Linked DNA regions of Homo sapiens. The protein of the gene in region 1 interacts with the protein of each later gene in a pairwise test. Each region holds a gene or a part of one and is shown in the gene's direction. Other genes may lie near its edges. The genes, in order: HNF4G and HLF.

Region 1 (3,828 bases):
ATTACTGTATTTGGCAAAAGATAAATTAGGAGGAAGGATTGGGTTTCCTTACCCATTCACCTTGTTCTATCAAGAGGCACAACTGTTTGACTTCTATTTTAGGGGTGTAGCAAATTTATTGATTGGACAAGAACTGAACAAAACACTCCTCTGCCCTTTTGGAATTTTAAAAGGGTCATGTGAGGGAGAAAGGTAGATAGCATGTAACTATCATTGTGAGACAAAGTATTAGAAGAGTGAATGTCTGTGAAGCAAATGGTGGATGTTGTGTATTGGCGTTTACTGAAGCTGCTATATAAAACTCCTCAGAAATACCAGGTCACTCCTAGACAGAAACCACACAGGTTGTGGTGTTGTCTTGGTGGGTACTTCATGCAATTAACATAAAGTTTTACCTTTCATGCTGTCAATTTTATTCTAGAATTTATTGTATAAAAGTTACATGTCTGGCAAAAAGAAAAACATCTGTAGAAACATGATCAGAAATTTATAGAGAAATAAAATTTACACAACAAAAGATAGAGTGATCTTTTACTAATACTTCTATTTTCATATTTTGTCATATGCCCATTAGGATATTTTAATAAATACTTAGGAACTTGAATTTCCTAATTGTACTATAAAGATAAGTATTTTGGTTTCAGATTCATTTTGAACCGTTCTTACTAAGTAGGGTATAATTTTTTGTAGATGAAAATAATTGGAAAAATTCCCTTTCTCTCACCTTAAATTAACCATGGTAAGTGTTATAACCAGTGTATATTTATTTTTAAGAGAGCGTTTCACCTGGTGACAGGAAAAAAAAATACAGTGAAATCTGAAATAATTCTTAAAATGCTCTGTAACTGCCTTCCTGGTGTGAGTCACGAATATTGACATACCATAAAGATAGCATGGCTCAGAAGGTTATGCCAGTGAATAACGCTAAATTGCTAAAACCTACCAGTCTCACCCCAAGCAATATAAGTAGGGTTACGTTATTTATCAGTTTTATATTTTTATTATCATTCTTCTTTAGAAGTTGCTGACTTATATATTCAGTGATTTAAAAATTGGGAAATTAAAATCCAGTAACCAGTGAAAAACAGTTTTAATTTGCCAACTGATTCTTTAATATTAACAGTATAACATTTATTAATTAGCCACAAATTAGTAAATGTCTGTTATGAATAAGGCATGGGAAATTAGCTTTCAGTTGCACTATAAATTACATCATTTCATTTAATTCTCTCAGGAGCTCGGTGACAGGTGTTATTATCTCCATTTTACAGTTTCTAAAACTGAACCCTAGATCAGTAAAATTCATTCAATAAATTCATCAAATGAATATTTATTAGGAGATTACTGTTCAGTTTTAGGAACTGTGGGTATTTAGCAGTAAAAATACAGATTTCTTCACTATTCTCATAAATGTACACTCTATTTGAGAAAGGTGGATAACTTAAAAAATGCAAAAATTATGAGAAAGTTCATTCCAAGTGGAGATAAGCTCTATAAAATGCTATAAAATGGAATAGGATGAGTTGTTGGAGAATGGGGATAAAATGAGAAGAGATACTTTAAACTGAGGACCAGAGAAGTTATTGCCTGAGACCCTGAAAGACAAGGGGCCAAGCCCAGGAGAATCTGAGAAGAAAGCACTCCAGATACAGGAACAGCATGTCCAAGGTTCTGAGTCAGGCAGCAACAATGTGAACAAGGGGTGTTGCAAGATGAAGTCAGAGACATGAGGGCTGGGAGGCAAAGCACTGACCCCTCTCACGCCTCCCATCACCTGTGAGGCCATGTTTGACGAGTTTGGATTTCAGTCTAGGGACAATAAGAAACCATTCAAAGAGTTTTCAGCCTGGACTAGGGTGGTAGCAATGGAGATGAAAAGAAGTGGATCACTTTGGCTTGTATTTTGAGAAGCAGCACTAGAATTTACTGCAGAGTTAGAGAGGACTCAAAATAGTCTCTTGTTTTGATGTGAACAAGCACTTTGGATTACGGTGTCATTTACTAGATGAAGATAATGGGGAAGTGTTACATTGGTAGGTGTTAAATTTGTAATGCTTCCTATACTTCCTAGTGGTGATGCCCAGCAGGTAATTGAGTGTACGAATGAAGCTCAGTTGAGAGCTTACTGAGAAGAATAATCTAGAAAGCGGCAGAACCCAGACCTCCCATCTTTTCCTTACAAGAAGTCTTTGCTTTGCTTTTGTTTATTTAGTTTATTACGTGCAGGAGATTATGTTTTATATATGTTTTATCGTTTAGTACTCATGAGTACATGATGAGATTTTTTTTATCTCTACTCCCATTTTGTAGATGAAAACAAATGAGTAAGTTCAAACGTACTGGTTAACTTACACAAGGTTAAACAGGTAGTAAGTGGCCGTGCTGGGATTTGAACTCTGGTCTGATTCTGTTTCCCTTGCAAACAGTTAACTTGTCTGCTTTTTTTTTTTTTCTTTCTGCTGCCATTGTATTGATTTGCTAGATAGTTTTAAAATTTTTGAAAAGTAAGTTCTATTGACATGCTATGATAGAAAACTGGAAGGCTTAATGATGGCATGTATCTATGAATACTATAGTTTGTTAAACAAAAAGTCCCAGGCTTAAAGAACACTCTAAGTTAACAAGACTCATGTCATCTTTTAATCATTATATATTATAATTAATTGTTAAACTGAGAATTTTTCATTAAGGTGGCACTGTTGAGAGCTCACGCAGGGGAGCACTTACTGCTTGGAGCTACAAAGAGATCCATGATGTATAAAGATATTTTGCTTTTGGGTAAGTTTTTTTTTTTTAATTTAAGAAGAAATTATGCATATTTTATTCTTGCAATATTATACAGGGTCTGTTCTGTATGTACCAAGTATTTACAGACACTGGCAAATGGTGCTGTCACTTCACAGGTTTAATTTAATTGTGTCCTCACTTGGCCTTATTTTTCCTTGCCTTGACTGTATGTAAGTTCAGAGTCCATGAGACAATCAGGGAGCATTAAGATTTAAAAATAAAAAAGAGATGTTGCTCAATAAACATAATATTGAGGTATGTTCAAATTATATCAGAATGAATAATTAGTAAATTATATGGCTGCCTTATGGAGTCTCAATGTGTTTTCATATTTCCTCAGAGTCTGCTTTTTATTTTACACACTTTAAAAAAACATGTTTACGTCCTATGATCTTATTGCCCATGATAGCCCACGATATGCTACAAAATGATCAAGTAAAAAAGTATTGGTGGTAATGACTGAACAATTTCGATAGACAGGAATGCTAGAAGAGGCTAAGGAAGGATAATAGGTGTGGGGTGGTGGGGTAGAGAAGACATAAAGAAAAGACATTTGTCTTCATTAATTGCTCCAATCCCGCTACCTTACTTAACTTAAACAGTTAGGTTTTGAGGGTTGAGATCCTTCTGACACTTACTAGCTCTACCTCTCTCTGGCATGTGTGAAAATATGACTAGATTATTTTATTTTTGTGCTAGATGTTTTAGCCCCAAATATAAATAAATTGAAGACAATATAACAATATTTAATATTATTGCAGGTTTACTATGTAAATGCACTGGTCTAAGTACATTACATGTATATGTATATATATTCTCTCATTTAATCCTTGAAATAGCCCTAAGGGATTAGTACTACTATTTTCAGCCCATTTTGCAGGTGAAGAAATGGAGACAGAGAAAGTTTACCAAAGGTCACAAAGCTAGAAAATAATATAGCCAAGATTCTAAACCACATAATGTGATTGTGGAGACTATGCCCTGAAATGCTATTAAATACCTCTCTTGAATTTCTAGTAAACATCTAGAATACTGTTCTTG
Region 2 (3,828 bases), on another chromosome or scaffold:
GTACTAAGGAGGAGCTTGGAGCAATTCGATTTGGGAAGTATTAAGAGGTGTTACATGATGATAGGAGATGGGTGCACATGCCTGTGTAAGAATGGGGAGGTGGGGACATTGTAGTGATGGGGCATTGGCATTGGGTAGCTTTGTTATTAAGTTCAAAGAGTTTCTAAAGGGAAAATAAAATCCCCATTTGAATCACAGGTGGTTCATTTTCTGAGGCAATCTCAAGAGGCACAAGATCAAATCTAGCTTGACACCATCCAGTACAGAACTCAGCAGTCTCTAGAAGCTGGAGCTGAGCTACAGCTTGGCTAATGAGAACTCTCCATCCTCTGCCAGCACCTCAGGGCCCATCTCTTCCTCTTTGGCAAGCAGGATACAAAGAGAGCGCAAAGCAGAGTGGGACCTAGAAGGTCACCCAGAGCATTCATTTTGCAAACTCCCCACCAGGCCTTTCCAGAAGACAGATGATCACGGTTTCACAGTTTTGCTAGAATCCGAGCCAGTGGCTTCATGCTTCGACCTGGGGTAGGTTTTAATGAAACCTAAAGAATACTTCACACATTGACCTACCATTGGCAGTGAGGAAGAGGGGGAGATGGGCCAAACACAGCTGAACGACATCCTCTCATTTATTCATGGGGCGTGAGAGGAGTGATTGTAAAATTCAGATGAAAACTAGAAGTTAAAATTCAGAGCTCCCAGTATAAACATTTGGGTCTGGTATGAAGTTCACTTTCACCAGTAAGACACATTGAGAAACACAAGAAACCCATTGTTCTCTGGATGTTTGTGCATTTCAGTGGTTTTGCCTGTAGGACCCTCAAGTGGAAGTTAGATTGTCTCTATTATGTTCTTTCTAATTTGTTAAATATTTCTTGAACTAATCTCCTTCTCACTATCTCCATTGCTACCGTTAATGTGTACACTGTTTATCACAACAGCCTTGCATCTCATCAGTCTGCAGCCGTGGCTCATGCAATCCGTTCATCATGCTGCCTGATTCTTCTTTCCAAACATCAGCTCTTTGTCACTTCACTGCTCAGCATCTCTCACTGACATTTGGATTGTTCAAAATCATATCCCCACTGCCCACCTTCTTGGCCACATCTCTTGTGCTTGCACCTCTCCCCACTCTGTTTTCTTCTGATTCAATGTGACAGCTACCCAAGACTATACGTGGTTCTGCAAAAATGCAAACCTCTGTCTTGTCTTGGCACCTAGAATACCCTTTTTTTGCTAATTACTCTTTGTCTCAAGATGCGGCTGTACCAAGAGTCATCTCTAGGAAATGCTCCCTAACCTCCTTTGTGTTACGTACCATTTCCTCACACTGTGGAAGCACATGAGAATTACTTCCATCCCAACATCTGTACTCTCCCCTAACTGGCTAGTTATTGGTCTGTCTCCCTGACTCACCTGGAAACCACCCTCAAGGTGAAAATTACGTAGTTCTGTTCATTGCATCTTGCAGAGTGCCTGGCACATCGCTGTGTGATAGGAAAGAATGAATGTGTATTTTTAAATTGGGCTTCTCCTTCTCTAGTTTTTGAACATGTGTATGTGGGTTTCTGTTTTGCCTGATGTGACGTGAGTCAAGTCATACTCAACCTGCTGTGTTCTCAGAAATGCAGTGCGGATGAGTAAGATAAATCATGTTAGCATCATATATAAGTGAGCTGAAGACTCTTACCACTCATCTCAGAGCACCATTAAGTAGCTGCCTACTGGGTCTCTCTAGGGTGTTCATGAATTAAAACTCCTGTGTTGTTCCAGGTCAGCTGTTGCCAGCAAACCGCAATACACCAAGTCCCATTGATCCTGACACCATCCAGGTCCCAGTGGGTTATGAGCCAGACCCAGCAGATCTTGCCCTTTCCAGCATCCCTGGCCAGGAAATGTTTGACCCTCGCAAACGCAAGTTCTCTGAGGAAGAACTGAAGCCACAGCCCATGATCAAGAAAGCTCGCAAAGTCTTCATCCCTGATGACCTGAAGGTAAATTGGAACTGGTAATCAGTCTTTGGGCAAATGGAGAGTGGGATCCACAGACAGATTAAAAGGGTGACCCCAGGATGATCCCAGAAGCTAGTGCATGAAGGATTTCTGATTTCTGATCCTGTTTCTTGGCATGTGACTTCTAGGCCAGTTGTTTCCTCTCTGGGTATTTTTTGAAATGCACTTTTATGTCTTGATGCTGAACAGAAACAAGGAGAAGCAGTAAAATGTTGGAGTGATTTTAAACCCATGAAGGAAACAAACCTGCTCCTATCTGCATGGAAACCCACAAAAGTCTAATAAAATTAAACCCCACATCTTTCAAGGTTGAGAAGAGAAAGAAAATCATTTGAGAAGGGCATCTGAACCTCATTGCCCTCGAAGGGTTACCTTCCTTTTAGAAAATTTTTGATAATTTGCTGCTGCCATTTCCCTGTAGGCTGCGAGGAATAACAGCCAGAGATAGGACCTTCCTCCATATTGCCAACCTTGGATGACCAGGGTGGGATTTTGTGAAGGAAACTGGTAGTTCCCTGACACCATTTATATGTATCTTAAGTAACGATCACTTGAATATCTCACCGCTAGATTAATTCTAAGTAGGTTTTCTCTGCAGTGTTGAAGGGACACCTTATTTATAAAGGGAAATAGATTTACCTTGGAAGTCAAATACAGCTTAAAACAAAATTAACCAGACACAATAATGACATCTTAGGATGAAAATTCTTTCCAAAATTATGCCATGTCTGCTAATGCCAAAATAGAACCATTTCTTATTAACCATTGCTTAGAACTTTCATGCTTCTTTCCAATCATGTGGGTACTAGAGATATGATTATTATGTAGTCAAGGCCTTGGAACCAGGCATAATTAGCCCTTTTCTACTGTCTGCCCCCCATCTCTCAAACCTAACTATTGTTCCTATGTAGAGACACTCCTAGGCTGGGAAATAGGAATTTGAGACAACGTCTGAACTGGCTTAGACCAGTTGTTCCTGCTTTACATAGCTAGAAAAAATGCTGGAAGCAGAAGTACCTGGCAAATTTAAATCACTGCTGTCATCCACATTCCTGAGATTACCTTAATTGATGCAGAATAGGAAAACATCAGGGCTGAAGGGGACCTTAGAGATTCATTTGTCCAAAATTACCACTTGCAGTTGAGGAAATGCAGAAAATGGAAAGCTGAAGTCAGCGGATCACTACCTGTTAGAGAAAGGCTTAGCCTGGCTCCCAGGTTGTCTTGCTTCCCAAAAGGTCACAGCAGCATGTTGGCCCTGACAAGGGCTATAACGGGGGCCCATGGGTGACAAATCAATGGCTGTCACCCTGAGAATCAAAAAAGGAAATCACATGGTAAAAACACCAGAAAATCTAAACTAGTCAGGACATTGATGGTTAGACTGAGATGGGGTAAAAAAGGGGCACCATGGGCTCAGGTCTTGGGCAATTAGGTACCTTATTTCAATGAGATGCCTTTCCTAGTCTTGTCTTCTTAGTGATCCAATTTTTTATGGTGTTTTTTTTTTTTTTTTTTTTGAGATGGAGTCGCACTCTGTTGCCCAGGCTGGAGTGCAGTGGCACGATCTCAGCTCACTGCAAGCTCCGCCTCCCCGGTTCAAGCCATCCTCATGCCTTAGCCTCCTGAGTAACTGAGACTACAGGCGCACGCCACCACGCCCGGCTAATTTTTTGTATTTTTAGTAGAGACGGGATTTCACCGTGTTCGCCAGGATGGTCTCGATCTCCTGACCTTGTGATCTGCCCACCTCGGTCTTCCAAAGTGCTGGGATTACAGGTGTAAGCCACCGCGCCCGGCCTTTTTTGTGTATTTT

Evidence for each region.
Region 2: the proteins of HNF4G (region 1) and HLF interact in a two-hybrid assay, tested with the Homo sapiens proteins (one large-scale study listed by BioGRID and IntAct).

Annotation. Positions count from the first base shown.
Region 1 is NC_000008.11:75,553,292-75,557,119, forward strand, and holds part of HNF4G (hepatocyte nuclear factor 4-gamma), read left to right. Parts: intron 1-2,690; coding exon 2,691-2,778; intron 2,779-3,828. UniProt on the Homo sapiens protein: Transcription factor. Has a lower transcription activation potential than HNF4-alpha.
Region 2 is NC_000017.11:55,313,454-55,317,281, forward strand, and holds part of HLF (hepatic leukemia factor), read left to right. Parts: intron 1-1,773; coding exon 1,774-1,994; intron 1,995-3,828.